Linked DNA regions of Homo sapiens. The protein of the gene in region 4 purifies or fractionates together with the protein of the main gene of each other region. This does not show direct contact. Each region holds a gene or a part of one and is shown on either strand. Other genes may lie near its edges. The genes, in order: KLHL8, THOP1, ZNF462 and XAGE2.

Evidence for each region.
Region 1: the proteins of XAGE2 (region 4) and KLHL8 purify together in Homo sapiens (affinity purification with mass spectrometry; one large-scale study listed by BioGRID and IntAct). This does not show direct contact.
Region 2: the proteins of XAGE2 (region 4) and THOP1 purify together in Homo sapiens (affinity purification with mass spectrometry; one large-scale study listed by BioGRID and IntAct). This does not show direct contact.
Region 3: the proteins of XAGE2 (region 4) and ZNF462 purify together in Homo sapiens (affinity purification with mass spectrometry; one large-scale study listed by BioGRID and IntAct). This does not show direct contact.

What each region holds. Positions count from the first base shown.
Region 1 is NC_000004.12:87,186,076-87,189,643, forward strand, and holds part of KLHL8 (kelch-like protein 8), read right to left. Parts: intron 1-3,568. UniProt on the Homo sapiens protein: Substrate-specific adapter of a BCR (BTB-CUL3-RBX1) E3 ubiquitin ligase complex required for The BCR(KLHL8) ubiquitin ligase complex mediates ubiquitination and degradation of RAPSN.
Region 2 is NC_000019.10:2,795,483-2,799,050, forward strand, and holds part of THOP1 (thimet oligopeptidase), read left to right. Parts: intron 1-598; coding exon 599-706; intron 707-3,568. UniProt on the Homo sapiens protein: Involved in the metabolism of neuropeptides under 20 amino acid residues long. Involved in cytoplasmic peptide degradation. Able to degrade the amyloid-beta precursor protein and generate amyloidogenic fragments.
Region 3 is NC_000009.12:106,869,639-106,873,206, forward strand, and holds part of ZNF462 (zinc finger protein 462), read left to right. Parts: intron 1-1,306; exon of another isoform or gene 1,307-3,568. UniProt on the Homo sapiens protein: Zinc finger nuclear factor involved in transcription by regulating chromatin structure and organization. Involved in the pluripotency and differentiation of embryonic stem cells by regulating SOX2, POU5F1/OCT4, and NANOG.
Region 4 is NC_000023.11:52,372,001-52,376,228, reverse strand, and holds the end of XAGE2 (X antigen family member 2), read right to left. Parts: intron 3,686-4,228; coding exon 3,560-3,685; intron 661-3,559; coding exon 638-660; 3' UTR 549-637; downstream 1-548.

The DNA.
Region 1 (3,568 bases), on a different chromosome or scaffold from region 4:
TTGCCCAGGCTGGAGAGCAGCGGCGCAATCTCAGCTCACTGCAACCTCTGCCTCCTGGGTTTAAGCAATTCTCCTGCCTCAGCCTACCAAGTAGTTGGGATTACAGGCGTGCACCACCACGCCTGGCTAATTTTTGTGGGTTTTGTTTTTTCAGTAGAGACAGGGTTTCACCACGTTGGCCAGGTTGGTCTTGAACTCCTGGCCTCAACTGATTCACCTGCCTCAGCCTCCCAAAGTGCTGGGATTACCAGTGTGAGCCACCACACTCGGCCTCTTTTATATATGTATCTGTAACATACACACAACAAACCATGATTTTCTATGTTATATTTCAGGGACATTTTGTGAATTAATACCAGCAAACATCAGTTAGCACTCATTACATGCCAACCACTATTGTAAGTGCTTTTTTTTTTTTTTTTGAAATAGGGTCTCACCCTGTTGCCCAGGCTGGAGTGCAGTGACGTGATCATGGCTCATTGCAGCCTCAACCTGCTGGGCTCGAGCAATCCCCCAACTTAGCCTCCCCAGCAGCTAGGACTACAGGCATGTGCCACCACACCCAGCTAATTTTTGTATTTTTCAGTAGGGACAGGGTTTTGCCATGCTGCCCAGGCTGGTCTCAAACTCCTGGGCTCAAGTGATTCACGCACTTTGGCCTCCCAAAGTGCTAGGATTACAGGCATGAGCCACAGAGCCTGGCCTTCTAAGTGCTTTTCATATACTAACTCAGTTGTCCCAACATCCCTATGAGTAAGTACTATTATTATCCACAATTTATCAATCAGAAAACTGGAGCAGAGAGTAAATATTTAGTAGTATTTACTATGAGCTCAACTGAGGTTTTTTTTTATTTTCTATTTACATTATCTTGAAATGATATAGCTCACATAAAAGCAGTAAAAAAAAAACACTGCAATCTCATCACCTTAATTATTGAAAAATCAGATAGCTTCCAACAGTATGCTATTACAAATAGCACACTAGTGAACTTCTTTGTAACTAAATCGTTATTCACATTCTCTATTATTCCAACAGATAAATTATTGTAAGTAGAGATGCTGCTTCAAAGGATACAATGTGAATATGTGAATACATAATGTCAAACTGTCCATTTCTGAGCTTCTTACAGTATTTGCACCATATCTTGAGTGTTGTTATTGTTGTTGTTGTTGTACAAAGTCTATGCTGCCCAGGTTGATCTCAAACTCCTAAGCTCATGCAATCCTCCCGCCTCGGCCTCCAAAAGTGCTAAGATTATAGGTGTGAGCCATTGTGCCCGGCCATAGTTGCCAATTTGATGAATAAAAAGATCTCATCTTTTTTTTTCTTTTTTGCTCTTAAGATTGAATCATTTATAAATTTTGAGCTATTTGTATTTCTTCTATGAACTACAAATTTTTTATTTATAAGTACTCATCATATAATCAGAGTATTAGGCATTTGTCATATATATTTCAAACTTCTCTTTTAGTTTGCTTTCAAATTTTATTCTCTTATATAAAAACCCTATGGATTTTTATGTAATTAAATGAAGTCTTTTTATTTATTGTTTTAGGTACCTGCTAGAAATGGGAATCATTCTAATATTCTATATTTACTTCACGTATTTTTTATACTACTTTTATGGTTTTATGTTTTACACTTAAATTTTTACTTACATCTGGAAGTTTTTGGTACTGAGTGGGAAGATATCTTCTTTTTAATACAGTATTTATCCCATTTTCCCAGGAGTTTATAATAATCAAATACAAGTAACAGTTATAGTACTATTTTAACAGTTTTCCTGTTTTCATGTAGTGTTTTGATTATATAATAAACAGTTGTATCTCATTATTTGAGAACTAATTTTAAAATGACAACTCCTAGAGTGTTCAAATGTATAAATGGTTTTGCTTATAAAAGCCCCTTCCTCAGTCTTTTTTCACTAATGTGGAGGAAGAAGCAGTATCACTTATTTCAGAAAGTACAAGACAATCATTTCTGTCTGTTATGCTATATTAAATTTTTTCACAGAACTCACAAGGCAGTATTTAGATTCCATTGAGACTAAAGTTGTAATGTAGACTATAACATAAAGCTTGGCATGTTTTCAAATTCACGTCAGCTCTAAAATGGGATCTGAAATCTGATACTAAATAACTTTTAAATAGCCTAAGCATATCCTTTAAAAAATTATTTCCACATGCCACCACTGGGATTCAGTTTCTATGCAAATATTTGTAAGTCTCACATGACTTAAACCTGCTCCATTAAATAACTTGCCAACACTCTCTTACATAATAGTATCATAAAATAGGGTTCTACAATTTCTAGATAACCATTATTTTAACACTTGCCATCCAAGCTGTACAAATCAATGGCCGGCAAGTCATTTTCATGTTGTTTTTAATAAGATTCTGTCCCTTTACAATTCCATTTGAGTCTTGATTCAAACAAACTAAAATGTGGCTATTTAACACATACACCCCTATGTACCCTTTTAGAATAAATATCCATCTTTATTTTATAAAGATCTTTAAGCCACATGTATAAATAGGAACAGCCAAAAATTTGGCTTTTTAATGCACTGATTCTCCTTTGATGTTATATAGTTAATTACATTCCTGAAAGTTTATTTGTACATTTTCTTTCTCTGGTACAAAAAAATAATTACCAATTACCAAAATCATTTCATTAGAAATTTGAAAATGAAAGGAATCAAAGTCTAAAGACCTGATGTTTAAAATTGGATGAAAAACACACAAGCTACATAATATTAGACATTACCGTGTATTTAGAATTATATAAATACTATATGTCCCTGATACTACTTAATTTTCTAATTTACATTCTTTCTTTGTTAGATCAGTGAACGTGTGACTAATTCAAGATAGTATTACGAAAGAAAAACCTTAGACAATTAAATTTAACGGAGTTTAACTGAGCAAAGACGGATTCAAGAATTGGGCAGTCCTGGAACAAGAATAGGTTCAAAGACACTGGTGCTGGTGCATAGTCGAAAATTATTTACGGACAGAAAAAGGAAGGTGACACACAGAAAACGGAAGTGAGGTACAGAAACAGACGGGTCAGTTACAGCTCAGGGTCAGCCTTACTTGAACACAGGTTGAACAACTGGTTGCCTTTAATTGGCTGAACCTCAGTGATTAGCACAAGAGTAGGTTGCAGTCTGTTTACACAACCAGTTAGGTTACAGTTTACTGTGTACAGAGAAACTTTTAGGCCAAGTTTAAAATACATAAGGTGGGAGCTTCAGGCTAAACTTAACAGTACTCAGGGAAAAATCATGTCACACTTCAGTATTAAAATATGTAGAATATCAACATTCATTAAATGATTCCTTAGACTTTTGTTTAAAAAGCTTGAAATACCAACTATTAATAAAAACTTTGAGTAATTTTCCAGAGATTAGCCAATATGAATGGAAATACAATGAAAATAAGGCTTTTGGATTAGTAAAGCACTTGACTATCAACATACAAAGCATTCCTAACTCCACTAGTTAGGACTTCATCATGGCTCGAGTGCCACTTGCTCGAGCCCGCTCCCACTCTGTGGAGTGTAC
Region 2 (3,568 bases), on a different chromosome or scaffold from region 4:
CTGGGAATGTGCTGATGTGTCCCACAGTCTCAGGATCATGCAGCCCTAGTGCTTTGGTAAATCCAGATCAGGGTGACCCATGATAGCCGTGGATTGTTATTTCTTTTTATTTAAATACAGACAGGGTCTCACAACGTTGCCCACGCTTGTCTCGAACTCCTGGGCCCACGCAATCCTCCCACCTCCACTTTCCAGAGTTTCTGTTGAGACAATGAGAGGTTCCCATGCAGGTGCAGGAAAGAATCGAATGCCTTTGCCAACTTTGCCCAGGTCCCCAGTGATGACGTTTTGCAAAACTATGGTGTCATCTACACCCCGATACCGACCTGGAGACCACCAGCAATCTAATTCCCATTCAGCCATCGCACTGGTGAAGGAGCTCTGGACTGATGTCAGTGTGGGGCTCTTCCAAACAAAGCGAACGTTTGCACAGGTTTTATGTAGAGACAGGTCGTCATTTCTCTGAGATAAATGCCCAGGAGTGCAGTTGCCAAGTCACACGGGGGCCGGATGATCAGGTTTTTAAGAAACTGCCAAACTGCTCTTTGGAGCGGCTGCACTGGCCCACGTCCTACATGCTTTGATGTTTTTATTCCAGGAGAAAGTTCAGAAGGACTCACTGAGGCCCGAGGCTGCGCGGTACCTGGAGCGGCTAATCAAGCTGGGCCGGAGAAATGGGCTTCACCTCCCCAGAGAGACTCAGGAAGTGAGTGCTGGGTGTAGGGAGTGCTGGGCGTGGGCAATGGTCGATCCCGGGGAGTGCTGGGCACAGGGAGTGCTCAGTCCCAGGGAGTGGTGGGAGCAAGAAGCGCAGGGCAGGGGGAGTGCTGGGCTCGGGGAGTGCTCGGCTCAGGGAGTGCTTGGGGCATCAGGAGTGCTGGGTTCAGGGAGTGCTGCGTCCCGGGGAGTGCTGGACTCAGGGAGTGCTTGGGCACAGGGAGTGCTGGGTGCCGGGAGTGCTGGGTGTGAGGAGTGCTCGGTCCCAGGGAGCACTGGGCATGGGGAGTACTGAGCTCAGGGAGTGCTTGGGCTTGGGGAGTGCTGGGTGGGGGGAGTGCTCGGTCCCAGGGAGTACTGGGTGTGGGGAGTGCTCAGTCTGGGGAGTACTCGGCATGGGGAGTACTGGGCACGGGGAGTGCTCAGTCCTGGGGAGTGCTCAGTTGCGGGGAGTGCTGGGCTCAGGGAGTACTGGGTGCGGGGAGTGCTGGGCGTGGCCAGTGGAGCTTCTGTGGCCCCCTGCCCCTGCCTCCTCGGGAGCGTCCCCCCTTCAGGGCTGACCCCCGGCCTGATGTCCATCTTTCTTCTGCCTGAGGACCTGAACTCTGGCAAGGCAGGTCCACACAGACATGGGGCGCAGAGGCTCGGTAACGAGGGGAGCCCCTCCACCCACTGCCCGGTGTGCCTGATGTGGGCGTCTCAGGGGTGACATGAGTTAGTTGGTGCAGAGCTGGGAGCGCAGCGCTGAAGTCAAGCGTAGTGTGTTAGCAGAAGCCCAGTGTTCAGCGGCACCAACAGAGCAGTGGCGACCGCCACTGGAAAGATGCGTGTCACAGTTCCCAGGAACTGGCAGCTCGCCACATGGGAAGCATGGCTGGGTCAGGAGGTGTGCTCTGGGCAGGGCCTTCGCTGGGGTCCCTTGTGAAGGCATGGGTGTAGCGGGGAGTGGGCTCAGGGTTGGCCGGCTGGACCATCTCAGCCAGCCCTGGCATGGGGGCTGCCCCTCATCGGGTGCCTGGCCCTAGGGTAATGGGGGCCGGTGGATGGTGCCCCAGAGTGTAGGGGCTCGAGACTAGTTGATTTGCACGTGAAAGATGTTTGCAGGCGAGCTGTTGGCTGTCTCTGGGAGGGGCCATTTCTCGAGGGCCAGCAAGGCACCCAAATGTCAAAGCATCAGAATACAGGCCCCTGATTCACCATGGTGTGTGTTCAGTAGAAACCGTGCTTGGAATGCTGATCTTTCCGAGGCCGGCCACTTGGGCACTTGCTGTCCTGTGACGCTGGGCGCCAGCCACAGCTACCAGCTAGCCTGCAATGACGCAGGCAAACTGAAAACCGAAGTTACATGAGATACCCAACACCTCATATCCGATAGCCTTTGCCTTCGGCGATCTCACCAGAATGTGGGCTGCTGTGAGTTCCTGAGCACGCTTAAGACAGGCCAGGTTAAGCTGTGATGTTCGCTCCTATTAAATGCATTTGTGATTTATGATATTCACAACTCACGATGGGATTATTGGGACATACCCCTGTCCTAAGTCAGGGAGCATCTGTACAGGAAAGAAAGCACACAGTTCAATCAGGTCCCAGGCTGCAGCCATAGCCCCATGGCTGTCCCTGTTCCGGTTCCATAAAGCCACCGCTGTCCTGGTTAGGGGGCGTCTCCACCTTATGGCTGAGGCAACCAAGACTCAGAGAGGCCAGGTGGGTTTGTCAGTGAAACCAGCACTGACGAAAGCGGAGTCAGGGTCCGTCTCAGTACTCGGGGACTGGGGGTCCTCAGCTCAGCCGCAGCGGACAAGAGCCAGTTATTTTTATTTTTATTTATGCATTTATTTATTTATTTAGACAGGGAGTCACACTCTGTCTCCCAGGCTGGAGTGCAACGGTGTGATCTCAGCTCGCTGCAACCTCTGCCTCCTATGTTCAAGCGATTCTCCTGCCTCAGCCTCTGGAGTAGCTGGGATTACGGGCACCCGCCAACACAGCTGGCTAATTTTTTTTTATTTTTGATAGAGACAGGGTTTTACCACATTGGCCAGGCTGGTCTCAAACTCCTAACCTCAAGTGATTCACCCGCCTTGGCCTCCCAAACTGCTGGGATTACGGGTGTGAGCCACTGTACCACAGTTATTTTTAAAACCCCTTCGGCTTGTTGCATGCCCAGCATGTGTGGCCATGTGCATGGTAGAAGCCACAAACTCTCCCACAAGGGCCAGCAAGCAAGGAGGGAGCAGAGGCAGCCCCGCCTGGAGGACAGAAGCGCGGAAAAGGTGCGAGGTCCGGATGCTGGCGAGCAGAGTTCCAGCGCGTCCCCGCGGCCCTTAGGGCCAGCGCTGTGTGCTCATTGAGTCTCCAGAGCCTTCCCTGGCATGGCTGGGTTTGTTATGTGAGATGGCAAGAGGGGGAGACATTGGGAATTGCCCAGCATGGGGCCTGTTCCCAGGAGAGGCCCAGCAAACCCTCAGCTGGTTCTGAACCAGGGCCTTCCTGACAAGATACAGGCTCCCTGCAAAGTCCTGGGCACAGTTTCCCCCTGCTGCCGCCCTCTGTCCTGCGGATGAGCATTTCTGCTCTGGCCCCATGGAGCTGGGCTCCAGACCCGCCTGGCGGAGCTTCCAGCAGGAGAATCTGAGTCAAAGTACAGCCCTGCTGCCAGCCTGTCATGTGTCATGTGGCCTCAAGCCAGGTCCTTGTCACATAGTGGTCACCTCCCAGCCTTCAAGGCCACCAGAGGGACCACTCAAGATTCAGTTCCTTTGTTGATATCCCATATCACCAGGGTCGAGTTTTAGCTGTTTCTAAAACCAGCTTTACCAGATAAGGGGTAAAATGTTCAAAAGCTGCCAGA
Region 3 (3,568 bases), on a different chromosome or scaffold from region 4:
AACCTCAGTGTGGCACTCCTCCAAATGAGTTGACTGTCGAAAATAAAATGTTCCAGAAGAACTGGGAGAACAGGAAAGAAGTTAAAACAGCATGGTTTGCATGCCAGTACTAAAGGAAGAAAAAAAAGTTTGGGTTGGGAGGGCATTGGAGAGAAGATAATTGTAAGTTGAACTGTCTCTTGGATTTATAAGACCCAGGAGAAGTTTCCAAATGTGGGAAAATGGGTTTTTATGAATTTAGATTGTATTTGCAGTATGCTAGGAAGCTCTTTTGGATTTTTTTTTTCCCCTTGAACTTTGCATTTGGAGAACTGCACACACTGATAAAAGGGAAATCCATTGGAAGCAATTTGGATTTACATTTTGTGCTTGGAAATGCTATCATAAAATTTATCTTTTTTCTAAGTCCTCCTATTCTCATCAGCTGAAGCACGTACAGGATTTTTAAAGTGTTTGGATGTGTGATTCCAACACAAAGTTAATTATTTTCACGGCTTAGAAGGACAAAGGATAGAGTGGTGTGGTGTGAGGAGGTGCTAGTATTGTCACCTACAAATGCATTGCCTTTTACTTCTGGTGAGCACATTACTTGGTGTCTTCAAAGCATTCTTGCCTAATTCCTAGCTGGAGACATTTTTTCTTGAGTTATTCTTGGAGGGAAGGTTTTTTTTGTGTGCCAGGTCATGGGTATTTTGGTATTGATTTCCTTGCTTTCATGTGTTTGCTTGTTCAGTTCACTGCATGTTGCTTCTGGATATTAATAAAATACTTGTGCTGCGCCTGTCCACATCTTACCCCCAACCTTATTCAAAGAGTAGACCCTGTTCTTTAGGGTGAAAGGAAGTTTGACAGGTACTTATTTGTTCAAAAAATAAATACTTGAAGATGAGAACTGTGTAATTCAGGAAGTTATTTGCTAGACCTTCACATAGACAAATTTTAACAAAGACCACACCAGGAAAAATGGAGAAAATTCTACTAGGAACCAATAGATCCTGATTAGAATGTTTTAGGATCACTTAGTAGGAAATTAAGCATTTGCCCAAGATGAGGAAGCGAAGTCTTACCTTTGGGTTCAGCTTGGTTGGAGCACAAAAGGAGCTGTAGGCCCAGGTGAGACAACTGTGTCAGAAGTAATAAAGCCCAGGATTTGTGGAGAGAGCTTAGCCGCCACAGAGCCCAGCTGGGGAAGGCCAAACTCACTCTTAAGTTCTCGTCTGAGCAGTTGAACCAGAACACACGCTAAGGCCTCCAAATTTTGGAATTCTTCTTTTTCCTGTTCAGATTTAAGAAGGTAATGCCATTATTCTTCAGTTTTGCTCATGTCAGCTGAGTGTTTCTCTTTTGAACTGGGAAATGCCAGAGGCTGGGGGGTGGGAGCCGATGTCCTCTAAGGGAAAATTCTCCCCGTTAACACTGCAAATGTGCCTTAACATTGTACTTATTCCTCCAAAAATAATTGTTCAGTGGCACAATGTGGGATACTTGAAAGATGTTTGCTGCACAAAGGTTCCAATACTTACCTGCAGATTAAGAAATGAGTTTCTAAACCATCTCATTTCTATTGCTAATGAAAAGCTTTGGAAGGCACCTGTGAATTAGAGCTCCAGCTGCTATCATGGTAGGGAAGTTAGGCCTTGAAAGGATACGTGGATTAGCCTGTCAGAAAAGCAAACAGTAGCATCAGCACAAGTAGAAAATAGACAAGGTTGTTAAAGCTAACAGGAAAGTAGGCTAAAGCATTGCTGTAATTTTATAGTGGAAATTTGCTGGGAAGGAGTGACTGGTTGGATGGGAGAAGGAAAAGAAGAGAAGCAGGAAAATAATTGACTAGCCAAATTGAAGAAGTCTGTCCACTGGGGAAGATCCTACAGGAAGAAGTAAGGCATTGCTTTTAAGAAAGCGATTATAGCAAGTAGAAAAAGACCTTGTAATTTGGTACCTAACACATGTGAAATATGAAGACCAGTGCTCAGGTACACATTCTTTGGCCAGTTCCTATTGTAAAAAATAGAATTGGGTTTGGAGGACAATTTATGTGACTTTGGGGTTACAATTACAGCCTTTCTGATAAAGGACAGATGGAAACTCAAGGGAACTGGTTAAGTAGGCCTAGGTGGAGATTTTCCTGGAAAACGAACGAAGTAGAGAATAGAGCACAGCAGAAAACAGCTGCATTATTAATGGACAGAAAATGTGATAGTCCTCTCTGAAGTGATCCATAGAGCTTCTCTACCTACACCCTGGGTGTTAGAAGAAATGAAGAACAAAGACATGCCTTTTCAGAGGGGAAAGGAATGGACTATGACTACTACCTGGCGTCAGTTTGGGTTTCAGCCATTGACTTGAGCCAAGCGTCACAGGCTGGTCTGTCCTTCCAGTCCCAGCATTTTAAAATCCAAAATAAGGCCACTGTGGTCCAGAATGTTTAGCCATTCTAATCCCTAATTACATCATCCCTCTGTGTTATGACTAATTAGTCAGCAATTGAGCACCAATCATTCAACCCAGATTGCCATGGGCCTGATGGAGGGTCCTTCGTTTGGGGTACAATTTGAATGCTGGGTTATAGCTGAAGATGACCAAAGATAGATACCAGCTACAAGTACTTATCACCCAGAATCTTTTCTCTTCAGTGGTTTCTATCTTAAATAGTCTTCTCTGAAGACTAATTAGTATTTGATAACAATAAGTGAGAAGGGAGTCTTTGTAGAAGAGACCATTTTCTTTTTTCTTTTCTTTTTGGAGACAGTTTTGCTCTGTCTCCCAGGCTGGAGTGCAGTGGCACGATCTCCACTTAAGCAACTGCTGCCTCCCAGGTTCAAGCAATTCTCCTGACTCAGCCTCCCAAGTAGCTGGGACTACAGGCACAAGCCACCATGCCCAGCTAATTTCTTGTATTTTAGTAGAGACGGGGTTTCACTGTGTTGTCCAGGCTGGTCTCGAACTCCTGAGCTCAGGCAATCTGCCTGCCTCGGCCTTCCAAAGTGCTACGACTACAGGCATGAGCCACCATGCCCGGCCTCAGAAAAGACCATTTTAATTTAAATATCGGAGTTCAGTTGCAAGAACTTCCCCCCTTTCTGCTGTCAATTGAATATTGTCTGTTCTAATACTGGGTAAGAACAATAGAAAATAAATATGATTGCTTCATCAAAAAAATCTGCCAACTCTATAGAGTGGGAATACCACATAGGACCTTAAAAAATGCTGTCTTCCCTCGTGGACTGACTCATAGTTAATACTGGACAACGGTTTTTATTTTTTTTTAACATTTAATATGAACCAGGGACTGTTCATACGGTAGAGGAAACTGAGGTTTAGGGAGGTAAAGTAATTTAGCCAAAGTCATGAGGCTGCAAAGTGGGGGAGCCAGGATTCACATGGAGTGGGGACTGCCTCCAGAGGCCTGGCTCTCAGCTGATGGGACCCGGCCTTGGTTATTACTTAGTCTGCTAATAGCTTATGTTCTTGATGGTTTATCTCTTCCAGTTGCTTATGCCAGGAGTATATCCTTGGAGTTCTAGAAGGAAATCTGAGAATAATGGAAAATTAATTGTAATATATT
Region 4 (4,228 bases):
CCTCCAGAGTAGCTGAGACTATAGTTGCATTCATTCATTCACTCATTGTAGTAGAGAGGGGTTCCTATATTCCCCAGACTGGTGTCACTTTCCTGAGCTCTAGCAATCCTCCTACCTCAGCATCCCAAGGTACTGGGATTACAGGTGTGAGCCATTACACCTGGCCACAATTCTCAATAGTATCAAAATACCTGGGAATGAAATTAACAGAAGAGGCTGGGCACGGTGGCTCATGCCTGTAATCCCAGCACTTTGGGAGACCAAGGCAGGCAGATCACGAGGTCAGGAGATTGAGACCATCCTGGCCAACATGGTGAAACCCCATCTCTACTAAAAATACAAAAATTAGCCAGGTGTGGTGGAACGTGCCTGTAGTCCCAGCTACTCAGGAGTCTGAGGCAGGAGAATTGCTTGAACCCAGGAGGCAAAGGTTGCAGTGAGCCAATATCATGCCACTGCACTCCAGCCTGGCGACAGAGCAAAATTCCATCTAGAAAAAAAAAAAAAAGAAAGAAAAAAAGAAATTAACAGAAGATGTGCAAGACTTCTTTGGAGAAAAGCTTAAAACTTTATTAAGATATTTTAAAGTAAAATATCTAATATAAAAACAGTTTGTGTTGTTTCAGCTTATCTTCCTTTAAACCTGTGATTTCCCTTCACCTGTAATAGAAACATAACAGGTGGAACATTACTAGCAGAACTGTATTTAGATCACATTAAGATATGCAAATGACACCAAAGTTTTTGTTTCGTACAGTGGACTAAGACCATAAACCCAAGAGTCACCCTCTGGCTTACATTCAATTAGACCTCTGTGGAGACTTTGGAGATAAACTTCCAAACATATACATTATTAATATTTTTTAAACACACCCTGCTTTCTAGTGCTACAAGGAAACCAAAAGACAGTCCGAGGTCAGAACACATTAAATCAAGTGAAACTCTTAAAAAGGGATTTAATGTATAAAGCAAAAATTGTGTATAATTTTACTAAAAATATAACAAATACACACAAAAAAACTAAGAAACAAAGGAATTTATAAAAAATGTACAATTTAATATTTTGGCTTGAAACTATGGTCTGGATGTCAAATAGGCTCCTGGAAATAGTATGAAAACTATCTTTTAAGAAAAGAGTTAATGTCACATTAGAAGCTGCATATGCGTGGTGAATAGAAAGGACAGTATTGCATTTGTTTTTTCCTCTATTGTGCCAAAGTGCAAAAATGTTGCTTTGGGTTAGTTTACCCTTCTGTAGATATTAAGGTATGGTAAACATCTGTCCCCAGTTTTCACCTATAGTCCTGATGTTAATACAAATATCTCTTTTTACACTTGAAAAAATTCCCCTTTGTATAATTAATTATATGATCGCATTACTTTTAATCTATCATTATCATTATTGATATCAAAATATGAAAGAGGTATATATCATGAACAGTATGGCACGAAAAAAAAGAAACGGAAAGGGAAATGGAGATGTAGAGGAAGACATCTAGAATAACTAAATATTTATTTCTAAAAGTAAATATTATCAAGGGACAACTAGCAAATTTCACAAGTTCATGCACAGTCTTTGTGATGAATAGATATTCAGGTACTACTGGGATATATTTAATAATGCATGCATTCCTAGCTTATCAACCATTTCATCTATATTCCGAAAATATTAGAGTTTAAGAACGTATTCACTTTCAGCTGGGCGTGGTGGCTCACATCTGTAATCCCAGCACTTTGGGAGGCCAAGGCAAGTGGATCACCCGAGGTCAGGAGTTCGAGAACAGCTTGTCCAACATGGCGAAACCTCGTCTCTACTAAAAATACAAAAAATAGCCAGGCATGGTGGTGCATGCCTGTACTCCTAGCTACTCAGCTGAGGCAGGAGAATCACTTGAACCTGGGAAGTGGAGGTTGCAGTCAGCCAAGATCATGCTGCTGCACTCCAGCCTGGGTGACAGAGCGAGACTCTGTCTCAAAAGTAAAACAAAAGAAAACAAAAGAATGTATTTACTTTCAGTTATACTACATATTCAATATCTGTGTCTTCTTCATATTCTGTATTGTGCTTTTCCCATTTTCTTCAAGACTGGAGAAACAAATAGATAGTCTATTCATAGCTATTTTTAAAATAAACAATGTGTTAAATGTATTACTTTTGGATTAGTTTTCCTAATCCAAAATCCAGGTTCCTACCTGTCTGTTATTAAGTACCTCTTTCCTTTTCCATTAGGTTTATTCTGTTGCTCTTTTATTATTATATTGATTATTACTTTATCATGTAATTTGCTATCTATTCTAATAAGATGTGCATTTAAGGCTGTGATCTTCCTAAGAATACAACTGAGGCTTGTTCAATCGGCTCCTGAAAACTATCTTTTAATGTAAATAGTTTAATGGAATGGTTCAGCAGTGCAGAGTAAAACATTTAGGTAATTTCTTCCCTAAACATGGAGTTCTTCCTTTAAATTCAGAAGCTCTTCTCATTAACAGTCAGCAATTTATAAAAAAAAATGTGTAAAAGATACTTATGTTGACTACTCAAGAATTAGTACATTATAGTCTTTGAACTTTAAGTCCTATCATCTGATGTCTCAAGGCAGAAACCTGTAATATGTAACCTATGATATGGTTAGAGGTGATTATATCATGTGTGTCTTTATTACACACAGTAGCTCATGAAGACTGACAGGAGAGCAAAAAGCATGCTTAGCACAGGCATCTTACACCCACCTTGAGCATGACTGACCTACATGCATTCTCCCTACTTCATTGGCCACAGAAAGTAGACTGTCTCTTGCCATTTTATTATTCAGTCATTCAAGGCTTCACGGTGGGAAGGCTTTAAAATACAATTATTCTTTAAAAGCCAGATAATTCAGAATTTGACAAAATCCAAGAACACTCATTCAAGTCTCCATGCTGGAAAACAAACATCAAGCAGAGTGCCTGCTCATTTTCTTAGGAGCAATGAAATCTCAGCTCAGATATTGTAATTGGACTGAAGCTGATTGTTAGGAAAAACAAATCATGGGAATCAGAATATCTTTCTATTCTCTCCAACAGAACCAGAGCATGCAGAAATCAGCATTGAAACGGATTTTAATACATTTGATCTGCATTCACCATTTTCAATAACAGCAAAGATGGGTGTAGAATTTATGGAATTTGTCCAGATTCTCACAAATTGTCATAGAGCTGCTACTAGAATCTCCTTCAGTACTCAGCATATTTCACACAGTCTGGTATTACAAATGCATTATGTATTTGTTAAAAGCAGAAATTAGAAAAGAATCTGAAAATTGTTAGCTGTTGGTTATACTCAGAAGTAAGAAAATGCTGTCATATTTGATGATTCAATATGGCTTTGACCCAATTTGTGTCTGTATCTGAGAGCATTTAAGTCTTGCAGTCAGGCATTGGGATCTGAAGTACCTTTCAAAGAAAGTGTGTATTTGAACACTGTTATTAAAGTGGCAGTAATATTATCTCTCTATGATCAAAAGTATAATATTGTAAAAAATAGAAATCACATAACTTTGTGTCTTAATGAATAACACACCTGCTTCTGGCATTTTAAAGTGCTCTGCTTTTGGTAGAATCTTCCCCTTGACATCAGTACCACCTTCACATCCATCCCCAGTCTTTGTCTGACATAGCTCCTGGAGATCGGCTTCCAGGTCAGGCACTAAAAAATACAAAGGTTATTGAACTTGAGTACAAAAACATGAAGTATAAATAAGGAAGTAATAATATTCTATTCCACAGAGTTATGACATAAAAGCCTGTAGGCTAGTGTGATAATAAATGTGATGCAAAGCTGTCACACTTTTGTTTTCCTGTATTATGAATTCCTATTTTATTTGTTTTTTAATACAGGGTTTCACTCTGTCATCCAGGCTGGAGTACAGGGGTGCAGTCACAGGTGACTGCAGCCCTGACCTCCTGAGCTCAAGTTATCCCCCTGTCTCAGCCTTGTGAGAGGCTGAGACTATAGGCACATGCCACCACCAAGGCTAATTTTTGTATTTTTTTGGCAGAGAAAATTTTCTGGTGTTTCCCCATGTTTCCCAGGCTAGTTCCTAACTCTCAGGCTCAAGGGACCCACCAGCCTCGGCCTTCCAAAGTGCTGGGATTACAGGTGTGAGCCAATGTACCTGGCCTGAAATCTAATATAAAATGACAATCTAAGGATAAATCACACTACACCTTCATTTCCTATACTTTGCCA